Linked DNA regions of Homo sapiens: region 2 is linked to region 1. The links come from fine-mapping of genetic effects on gene expression. A gene starts in region 1. The other region holds a variant in brackets. All regions are shown on one strand. Distances are from middle to middle.

Region 1 (5,369 bases):
CAACAGCCACCTGTGAACCTGGAGTGGAAAGTGACAGAAGAGTGAGATAAATTATGTATTTGATCCTCTCTCATCCAAAATACTACAAAAGGAGTATTTAAATAAAGTTTAAAAGAGAAGCAACACTACCACCTAAACTTGGAATAGAGGCATAAATGCTACAAGGACTAAGATGCAGAATGGTATTAAATAGAATTTGTCACTTAAAGCAAAAACAGAAAAATACTTGAGGACACAAACATTTTATTTACTGAGAAAGAAACTACAGTATAGACATTTGTGTACAGACATAATTTGTTTCTTACTCCTGAAAAAAACAAATTAGCATGCAGCTCCTTATTTAAATCTCATGTGGGGCCTCTCTGTTGCTCTCTTCCAACCTCTGGCCTCTCCCACTCAGTCTCCTTTGCTGCCTTTTCTCATCTCCCCAGTATCTAAAGTTTGGAAACCTCAAGGCTTCAGACCTCTTCTCCATCTCCATTAATTTCCAAGGTAATCTCATCCAGTGTTTTGTTTTGTTTTTGAGACAGGATCTGGCTCTGTTACCCAGGCTGTAGTGCACTGGCATGATCTCAGCTCACTGCAACCTCTGCCTCCCCGGTTCAGGCAATTCTCATGTCTCAGCCTCCTGAGTAGCTGGGATTACAAGCATGTGCCACCACGACCAGCTAATTTTTTTGTATTTTTAGTAGAGACAGAGTTTCACCAAGGTGGGAGGATCTCTTGAGGCCAGGAGTTCAAGACCAGCCTGGGCAACACAGGGAGATTCCCATCTCTATTAAAAAAAAAAAAATTGCTGGCTGTGTGGCATTCACCTGTAGTCCCAGCTACTTGGGAAGTTAAGGTGGGAGGGCTGCTTGAGCCAAGGAGTTCGAGGCTGCAGTGAGCTGTGATCACGCCACTGCACTCCAGCCTGGGACAAGATGCTCAAATAAATAAATAAATAAAATACTATCACCTCTCCACATAACACTAGTACTTTTATTTACCTTACCATGCTTTTTCTGTCCCTATCTAATTATTATGTAATATACTTACCAAAATGCAAATTCCACAAGTGCAAAAGCATTGTTTTATCGAATGCTGTATTCCCAGCTCCTACCTAAAACACAGCCTGGTTTATAACAAGTGCCCATTATTACTGACTATTATAGGACATTAGGTAACATGATCCATATTATCACCAATGGTCTTGCAAAATGCTAACAGCTCTATTACCTATATAAAAAGCAAAAAAACAGGCTGGGTGTGGTGGCTCACAACTGTAATCCCAGCACTTTGGGAGGCTGAGTTGGGCAGATCATTTGAGGCCAGGAGTTCGAGACCAGCTTGGCCAACATGGCAAAACCCCATCTCTCCTAGAAATACAAAAATTAGCCAGGCACGGTGGCGGGCGCCTGTAATCCCAGCTACTCAGGAGGCTGAGGCGGGAGAATCGCCTGAACCTGGGAGACAGGATGTTCCAGTGAACCCAGATCGCACCACTGCACTCCAGCCTGGGTGACTGAGACCAGGTCTCAAAAAAAAAAAAAAAAGTGGGGGGAGGCATATAACTTATAGCTTGGTCAGTGGCAGAGCAATGACTGAACCCCAATCTGATTCCAAATTCTACACTCTCTCCATTACATTAGCTGTTAAAGCATGAACATTACATTAGTTAAAGCATGGACTACGAACTCACAGCTCTGTGAGGGGCACTTCTTAAATAGTGAGCGATAATGACACCTATGTCTGCAGCTTTCTGATCGAAAAGGAGCAAAGAAAGATAGAAGAACTAAAGGAACAGAGGGCGTACCAGTAGCCTTGGTTTTGTTGTGACCTCTATAAATCTGGGACCAGTTCTCCTTTCTAAGCCTTCGCGGTAAAATACTGATCACAAGCCTAGCCTCCAATAACTCCCAGGGCCAAAGTAAAGATCAATTCAACAGACGTTGATTAAACCCAAAGGCAATCTAGTCAAGTCATCAAATGCCCTGGGGACAGTTTCCCAGCTCCATCCACTTATTAGTTGTGGGACTCCTGGCAAATTACTTTTTCTATGAATACCTCAGTTTCTTCATGGGTAAAACGTGAAGCTATAGAAAGAACTCACCCCATAGGATTGTTGGGAAGATTAAATAGGCCTTTGGCTGAGCGCGGTGGCTCACGCCTGTAATCCCAGCACTTTGGGAGGCCGAAGCGGGCGGATCACCTGAGGTCGGGAGTTCGAGATCAGCCTGACCAACATGGAGAAACCCCGTCTCTACTAAAAACATAAAATTAGCCGGGTGTGGTGGCGCATGCCTGCAATCCCAGCTACTTGGGAGGCTGAGGCAGGAGAATCGCTTGAACCCGGGAGGCGGAGGTTGAGGTGAGCCGAGATCGCGCCATTGCACTCCAGCCTGGGCAACAAGCGCGAAACTCCGTCTCTAAATAAATAAATAAATGGGCCCTTATGTGTAATGCATTCAGTAGCACCTGACAATTTGTGATCATTCCGTACAGTAAGCCATGACTATTATCATCACGTGCTAGGCCCTGGGATCTAGAGATGAAAAAGGCAAGGCATAACATCTAACGAACGAGCTTACGGTGTCAACGAGGGGCCGGGAAAGTAACTCGGTGCACAGCGAGTGCAAAAACCGAGAAGCGAATGCAGCTGCGCCTGGAGAAGGCGGCTGAGAAGCGATACTTCAGCAGGGTCCTGAAGAATGGGAGCTCCAGAGTCGGGTGGCGGGTGGGACTGGGCTTTCGGATAGATTACGTGCAAATCCGCCAGGACACAGGGAGCGAGGGGCGGGGGGGCGGCAGAGCGCGGCGCCTCACCCTCCCAGCCTGGGATTGCGGCTACTGGACACGAGGGTCGGGAAGCTCTCCTTCGGCGCCGACTGGAGCTTAGCGTGCTGGCGGCAGCAAGAAGCTGAGGCAAGCGGGCCCCGGGCCCTAACGACGCGTCCCAGCCCCTCTCTGGGCCTCGGGTTCCTCCCGGGTAACAAGAGGCCGCTGCCCGAACGGGATTCCCTCAGGCGCCCTAGACGGGCGGGTCTCCGGGCCTCGGACGGTTAACCCGAGCACCTCCCACCTGCCCCTGAGGCCCCACCTCACCACGCTCGGCTCCCGCAGACGCCCGGCTAGTTGCTCCGCGATTGAGCTGCGGCAGCCGCTGCTAAGGCCCTGCGGGGGACGGGGGCGGAGCCCACCCCGAGGCAGAGGGCCAGGCCCCGCCCCCCCAAACTCCCGCCCTTTGGGAGGGGCCCGCCCCTCCAAGTCCTGCACCTATAGGCAGACTGAGCCGGCGCAGGGCCTCCCGCCATGTTGGGTATTGGCAGCCGACTTACTAGAGAGGCCCTGAAGGAAAGGGGGTATTATTTTAAGAATTATAAGATCCCTAGCCAGAAATGGGGACGGTCAGGGTCTCTGGATTCGCGAAAGGGACATTTCGGAAGCAGAAAAGAAAAATTGCCCTCAATCATTTCGCTTTTGGCTTCAGTGTTACATACAGCGCATGTGCAAGGTCACCTGGTTCTAGGTGCGCCTGCGCACAGCTCCACCTACAAACCAGACTACAATTACAACTGCCGAGAAACAAAGGGGCTCGCTGCCACTGGTTAGCGATAATACTGGCAGCGCGACCGGTTTCTGAGGGTTGTTCACCTTGCTGCTCAGACGCTCCGAGAAGCTTCAGGCAGCATAACACTTACAGGCGAGTTACTTACTCAACACTCGGTTTTGTCTGCATGTCTCTGCACAGAGTGTTACCTTTACCTGACTTAATCCGTCCCGGAGCTGCAGTTCTGCTTAAGCCTGACTTCTAGAGAACTTTTTCTTCCCAATAGGACCCATGCGTTATTCCTGTAGCATTTTGTGTATAAATTTTTTTTTTTTTTTTTGAAATGGAGTCTTGCTCTGTCGCCAGGCTGGAGTGCATTGGCACGATCTCGGCTCACTGCAACCTCTGCCTCCCAGGTTCAAGTAATTCTCCTGCCTCAGCCTCCCGAGTAGCTGGGACTACAGGCGCCCGCCACCACGCCCGGCTAATTTTTGTATTTTTAGTAGAGACAGGATTTCACCATGTTGGCCAGGATGGTCTCGATCTCTCTTGACCTCGTGATCCTCCCGCCTCGGCCTCCCAAAGGGCTGGGATTACAGGCGTGAGCCACCGCGCCCGGCCTTGTGTATAAATTGTTAATGCACTTTCTTAGAGTTGTAAACTCCATTTACCTGCCTCACTCTTGCACTCAGTGGTTCTCAATTTTTAGTAGGAATTAAAAACAAAACTGGTAAATGCAGACTCTTGGTTTCCACCCCCAGAGAATCCCTAAACCGGGGGTGGAGTCCAGGAATCTGCATTTTAGAAAGTACCCAGGGTGATTCTGATAATTGGGAACACGTTTTAGGAAGCGCTGCATGAGATTGTGAGCTTGAGCGTAGAGACTGTAATTTGGTCATCTGACTATAGCGCTCAGCACAAGGCCTGGTACAAAATAGGTGCTCAATAAGTGCTGAGTGAATGGGTGAATGAGTGGATAGCTCGAGTGAAACAGCAAGGCTTCAGGTTAATCCACAGCCAAAGGTAACCTGAGAAAGGAACGCTTAAAAGCTATATTTTATCTTTCTCCTGTAAGAACACAAAAAAGATCTTAATAGCTAATTTGAGAAATAGAGAAAGTGGAGAGTAAAAGGGGAAGGAAGGACACGGATTCTGAAAGGCAAACTATCTAGAGAGGGGAAAAGGAACATCTCCAGGCACTAGACAGAGAAAACGATGCAAAGAAGCAGTGGTGTGGGATTCCATCCTAGGGAAATAATCCCACAACAGGCATTGTGCTTGAATGTTCACTGCAACAATATTTGAAATACAAATGAAACAATCTAAATATTATGCACATCAAGCTCTTTTCTGCCTCAGGGCGTTTGCATACACTATGCCAGCTACCTAGACCACTTTTCCCCCAGCTCTTGGCCTAGCTGGTACCTTCCTGTCCTTCAGGTCCCAGCTTAAATGATACTTCCTCAACTAGGTCTTCCCTGACCATGCTATCTAAAGTAATACCCTATACTTTCTAGGATAGTCTTCTGTTTCTTTTCTTTTTGAGACGGGGTCTTGCTTTGTCGCCCAGGCTGGAGTGCAGCGGCGCAATCTCGGCTCACTGCAAGCTCCACCATCCGGGTTCACGCCATTCTTCTGCCTCAGCCTCCCCAATAGCTGGAACCACAGGTGCCCGCCACCACGCCCGGCTAATTTTTTTGTATTTTTAGTAGAGACGGGGTTTCACCGTGTTAGCCAGGATGGTCTTGATCTCCTGACCTCGTGATCCGCCCGCCTCAGCCTCCCAAAATGCTGGCATTACAGGCATGCGCCACCGCACCCGGCCGTCTTCTGTTTCTTT
Region 2 (5,326 bases), 96 kb before region 1:
ACTTACTCTCCACAGCATGTACTGCAGCATGGGGGAGGGAGGAGAGAGAAGAAAGATTCAGAGCTTCACAATGAGAACTATGAGAGCAAGATATGTTGCAGGAGGGAAGACTGGAACATTCAGCCTCAGCAACACAGTCTGGCCCCAGCTAACAAGCCTCCTTCTGGGCCCCTCCTCGAGAGTGAACTAATCTGGCCAGAGAGGAGCAAAATAGTGGCCTAGAAGGACAAGAGGCCTAGAGCTCAAAGAGCCAAGTTCCTGACTGTGTGGCCTTGGGCAAATCAGTTGCCCTTTCTGGGCCTCAGTGTTCTCCTTTGCAAAGGGCTGTCCTAAGGATCACGTGGGATCTAAGATGGAAAAATACTTGTAAACTTTACACTGTAAGAGATTATTACCCACCCCAGCCCCAATCAACAAGGATGTTAGAAACTCACTCCCAGGCCTCAATTCAGCCAGATCTCTGGCCTTGGGCAACTGTACCTTTGCATTTATACATCCTTCCAAATACAGAGCACCCCCGGCCCGGGGATCCACAAGTCTAACAGTCCCAGGCCAAGAGGCTGCCACTCTGGCTGTGTGTCTACTGAGTGCCCGCCAGACCTTGTGCCAACAGCTTGACACTGATCATCTTCCTGCCCTCCCAGCAAGACCCTTTTCTCCCAGCTTCCTCCAGAGTGAAGAGGGGGTCCCAGAGCTCTGCAGGGTCCTCCAGCCCCCACACTGGCCCCTCCCCAACACAGCCCCACCCCCACAGATTGCCCTGAAGACCAGCAGAGCTACCCTCCAGGGGGCCCTTTCTTCCTGTTCACTTCAACCATTTTGAGAGGCCATCTTCATACCCTGGGCTCTGTCACTGTGCAGCTCTGTCCATCCTTTACTGTGACACCAACTCCCACCTTCCCCAACCCTGCCTTCAACCCCTGGGTTCCTCTTCACTTTCTTGCTTCAGCCTGGCTCTTCCTTTCAGGCACTAACTCCCTGGCATCCCCTCAACGTGCGACTATCTTCTCTCCATACACAACCTCTTCCCTGGCCTAAAGAGAAGTCTTTCTTGCTCCTTACTGCCACTTCCAGATCACTTTCCCTTTATCTGCCTTAAAAATGCACAATGGCTCACATCTGTAATCCCAACATTTTGGGGGGCCAAGCGGGAGGATCACTTGAGCCCAGGAGCCTGGGCAACATGGCAAGACCCTGTCTCTGCAAAAAAAAAAAAAAAAATTAGCCAGGCATGGTGGCATGTGCCTGTGGTCTCAGCTCCTTGAGAGGCTGAGGTGGGAGGATCTCGAGTCCAGGAGGTCAAGGCTGCAGTGAGCCAAGATTGTGCCATGGCACTCCAGCCTCAAAAAAAAAAAAAAAAAAAAAAAAAAAATCCCCAGCTTTGAAGCTCAGGGCAAAGCAGCCCTGCTTGTTTCAGTCACCTAGATATCGATATGGAACCTCCAGAACAGTTTTCCCATGCCATTTTTCAACAGCTTGGGCAACTGCCTGTCACTCTCTCCTGTACTACCTCTGTCACACGTTCTAGTGATTTCCATATCCACGTAGATGATCCTTCCAGTACCCGGGCCTCCCAGTTCCTGGACATCCTTTCCTCCCTGATCTTGTGCTCTGCCTACCCAAGCCACTTGCTCTGTTGGCCATTCCCTAAACTTTGTCATTAACAAAGCCCCTTCTGTGACTTCAATTTCAAGCAACTCATGCTCCACCAGCTTTCTAATTTCCTCCAGTTCCCCAATTCCAATAACTTGTTGACACTACACTCAGGACTTGTAGTCCCTTTTTCCTCCTGCCCCCTCACTGGCTTCTCCACATCCTGTCTTTCCTCCTTTCCTAGCTCATATGCTGTGGTCCAGAATCAAGATGAGTTCTTTACATATTTGACTCCCTCACCTTTGCAGGCACCTGGCAACACCAAACCCCATGCAATTGCAATGTTCTGTTGACTGAGTCCATTCCCACACAGACAACCATGCTGACCGCTCTCTTTGCATTCACAGCCGCGGACTCCAGGGAGGCCCTAGGGCTGCATCAATCCTACTCAATCTCCCCAGTCCACGCACTCTTCCACCCCCAAGTGACCAGTCACATCTTTTCTTCTTTCAAATCTCCAACACCTCCTTCCCTCTCTCCTCATTCTCAACTGAGGACCTTCCTTCCTACAACACGGAGAAGATGGGAAGACTCAGAAGAGACTCTCCATGTACTTCTGCCACACCAGCTACCACCCTACCTGTACCTACAGAGCCTGCCCTTCCTCCTGGTGCTAAGTTTGGACTTTCCACATATGTAAGGCACTAGATTCTGTCTTCTTTCTCCTTCTCCAGGACTTCACTCCGGTCACTGTCTCGTCTCTGGAGCATCACTTATGCTCTTTAGTCGATAATTTCCAACAGCATATTAACATTCTGCTACATCACCCTCCTTAGAAAAGCCTCCCTCGACTCCACATTTCCCTCTAGCTTCAGCTCATGCTCTCTCCTCCCCTAGGCAATTTCCACTATAGAGCTGTCAATACTGGCTCCAACTCCTCCCCCATTCCCTCCC[G/A]AACCCACTCTAGGGTGGTCCTGTCACACCCTTAAATGACTCAGTCAAGGCTATAAGTGACTGTTGCATGTACATGCCATGGTCAATTCCCGCTTGACATCCAGAAGCATCTGATGTGGTATTTGAAACACCCGTCCGTGGCTGGCAGGATGCCACATTCCCAGCTTACACTCCTCCTCCAGTCTCCCCTACCAATTCCCCCTGACACCCTTGGCCTCTAATGTGGGAGGCCTGGCACCCAGCCCTTTGAGCTTCCCTTCTTCTCCATCTGCCCTCACCTCCAGGGTGATTTCATCCAGTCCCACAGCTCTATACACATGCTGATGATGCCAACATCTGCATCTCCAGGCAAGTCCTCTCCCTGAACTCCAGGCTTGAATGGAAAACTTACTTGACACCTTGGGTGTCTAGAAGGACACCCAGATGCTATTGGTCTGAACACGTCAAAAGCCGAATACCAGCTGTACGATCCCATTTCCGAACATCTAAACCTGCCCTGAGTCTCCCTCATCTTGCTAAATGGCAACTCTATCCTTTTTTTTTTTTTTAATGGAGATGGAATCTCACTCTGTCGCTCAGGCTGGAGTGAAATGGCACAATCTCGGCTCCCTGCAACCTCCGCCTCCTGGGTTCAAGCAATTCTCCTACCTCAGCCTCCCGAGTAGCTGGGACTACAGGCGCACGCCGCTACGCCCGGCTGATTTTTTGCATTTTTTAGTAGAGACAAGGTTTCATCATGTTGCCCAGGCTGGTCTCAAACTCCTCAGCTCAGGCAATCCACCTGCCTTGGCCTCCCAAAGTGCTAGGATTACAGGCAACTCCATCCTTCTTACTACTCAGGTACAAAACTTTGGAGGCATCCTTGACTCCTTTTTCCTTTATCCCTCATGCCCATCAGGAACTCTTCTCAGCTCTACCTTCAAAATACATCCAGAAGCCAGTCACTTCCCACCACTTCCACTGCCACTCTGGGCCGTGCCCCACCATCTTTTGCCTGGATTGATCACTGCAACTGCCTCCTAATGGGCCTCTCTGATTCTGTCCTTTCCCCTGCCCAGTCTTGTCCACAGAGCAGCTGGAGAGCTTTTAAGTCAGATCATGCCTCACCTTCTTCAGGGCCCTACAATGGCTTCTCATCTCATGCAGAGTAACGGCCCGAGTCCCTACAATGCCCCTGCAAGCCCTGCATGATATGGCCCTGTGACCTCTCTTTATTTATTATTATTTTTTGAAATGGAGTCTCACTCTGTTACCCAGGCTGGAGTACAATGGCGCAATTTCAGCTCACTGCAACCTCCACCTCCCAGGTTCAAGAGATTCTCGTGCCTCAGCCTCCCGAGTAGCTGGGATTACAGGCGTGTGCCACCACACCCAGCTAATTTTTGTATTTTTGGTAGAGACAGGGTTTCACCATGTTGGCCAGGCTGGTCTTGAACTCCTGACCTCAGGTGATCCACCCGCCTCGGCCTCCCAAAGTGCTGGGATTACAGGTATGAGCTACTGCACCCGGCCTCTCTCACTTCATTTCTAAGCATGCTCCTCTGCTCCAGCCACCCTAACCTTCTTACTGTATCTTGAACTTGCCAAGCACATTCTAGCCTTAGGAATTTGCATTTGCTGTTCTCTCTGCTTGTAACACTTCCTCCCCAGACATCCACATGGCTGGCTCCCTCACTGTCTTCAGGTCTTTGCTAAAATATTACCTCATCAAAGAGTTTTTCCCTGACCTCCATATTTAAAATAGGACCCTCACTGCCCTACCCTAGCCCCTCCCCATTACCATCTTTATCCTGCCTTGTTTTGGTCCATATGACTTAACAGCATCTGATATACCATATACAGATGCTCCCTGACCTACACTGGGGTTACGTCCCAATAAACCCATTGCAAGTTGAAAATATTGTAAGTCGGCCAGGTGCGGTGGCTCATGCCTGTAATCCTAGCACTTTGGGAGGCCGAGGCGGGCAGATCACTTGAGGTCAGGAGTTCAAGACCAGCCTGGCCAACATAATGAAACCCCATCTCTACTAAAAATACAAAACTTAGCTGGGCGTGGTGGCACGCACCTGTACACCCAGCTACTCAAGAGGCTGAGGTAGGAGAATCACTTGAATCCAGGAGGTGGAGGTTGCAGTGAGTCAAGATCATGCCACTGCACTCCAGCCTGGGCGACAGAGTGAGACTCTGTCTCAAAAAAGAAAAAGAAAATATCGTTAAGTGAAAAATGCATGTAATACCCATCATGAAGTTAAAAATTGCAAGCTGAACCATTGTTAATTGGGGACTATTTATATTTTATATACTTATTGTCTATTTCTTTACTAGAATGTTCTGAGGGCACAGATTGTTCACTACTGTACCCTTAGCAACTAGACTAGTAGGTGATTACTAAATATTTTGTGAATGCATGAATGAACAAATGAATGAGAATAAATCTCATTTGTTCACCCCAACAGCCCTGTGAGTGGGTACTATTATCATCATCCCCATTTTACAGAAGAAGCAACTAAATAGGGCCCAAATATGACATAGCCCAGGTGTGGCAGAACCTGTGCTCCAACCTAGCTCTGCTTCTCCCAAAGCCTCATGCACAGGTCATCATCGGACACGGGGGGCTACCATTTCAACAAGTACCTACCACAAGCCAGGCTCCGTGCTATCATCTTTAACCTGCACACACACCCTGTGAGATAAGTGCCCTCACAACATTTTATAAAGTAGAAAACAGGAGTCAAAAAGATTAAGAAACCTTCTCAAAGTCACACAGCCAGTAAGGTCT

Alleles and levels. Positions count from the first base shown, and alleles are read on the strand shown. Sizes are in standard deviations (SD) of each study's normalised expression.
For the expression in lymphoblastoid cells of the gene that starts at base 2,724 in region 1, allele A in region 2 goes with a higher level than allele G (large effect, 1.5 SD a copy in CAP).

What was found. PIP is the estimated chance that this variant, and not a neighbour inherited with it, causes the effect.
Region 2: its variant is the best candidate, but not a certain one, in a credible set for the expression of CEP250 in lymphoblastoid cells (CAP, PIP 0.59).

What each region holds. Positions count from the first base shown.
Region 1 is chr20:35,452,953-35,458,321 of GRCh38, reverse strand. It overlaps CEP250 (centrosomal protein 250), which reads right to left and starts at 2,724. Exons shown (of 35, transcript NM_007186.6): 1 at 2,571-2,724; 2 at 1-18. MIR1289-1 (microRNA 1289-1) reads left to right here and starts at 4,225; the gene lies at 4,225-4,368. It also overlaps a transcript of GDF5 not described here. RefSeq lists a silencer at 2,930-3,309 and enhancers at 3,330-3,479, 3,740-3,789.
Region 2 is chr20:35,549,067-35,554,392 of GRCh38, reverse strand. All of the region lies in intron 7 of ERGIC3 (ERGIC and golgi 3), which reads right to left. Among named protein-coding and RNA genes, the nearest start is that of ERGIC3, 9.7 kb to the right of the region's middle. The variant G/A (reference allele first, on the strand shown) is at 2,548.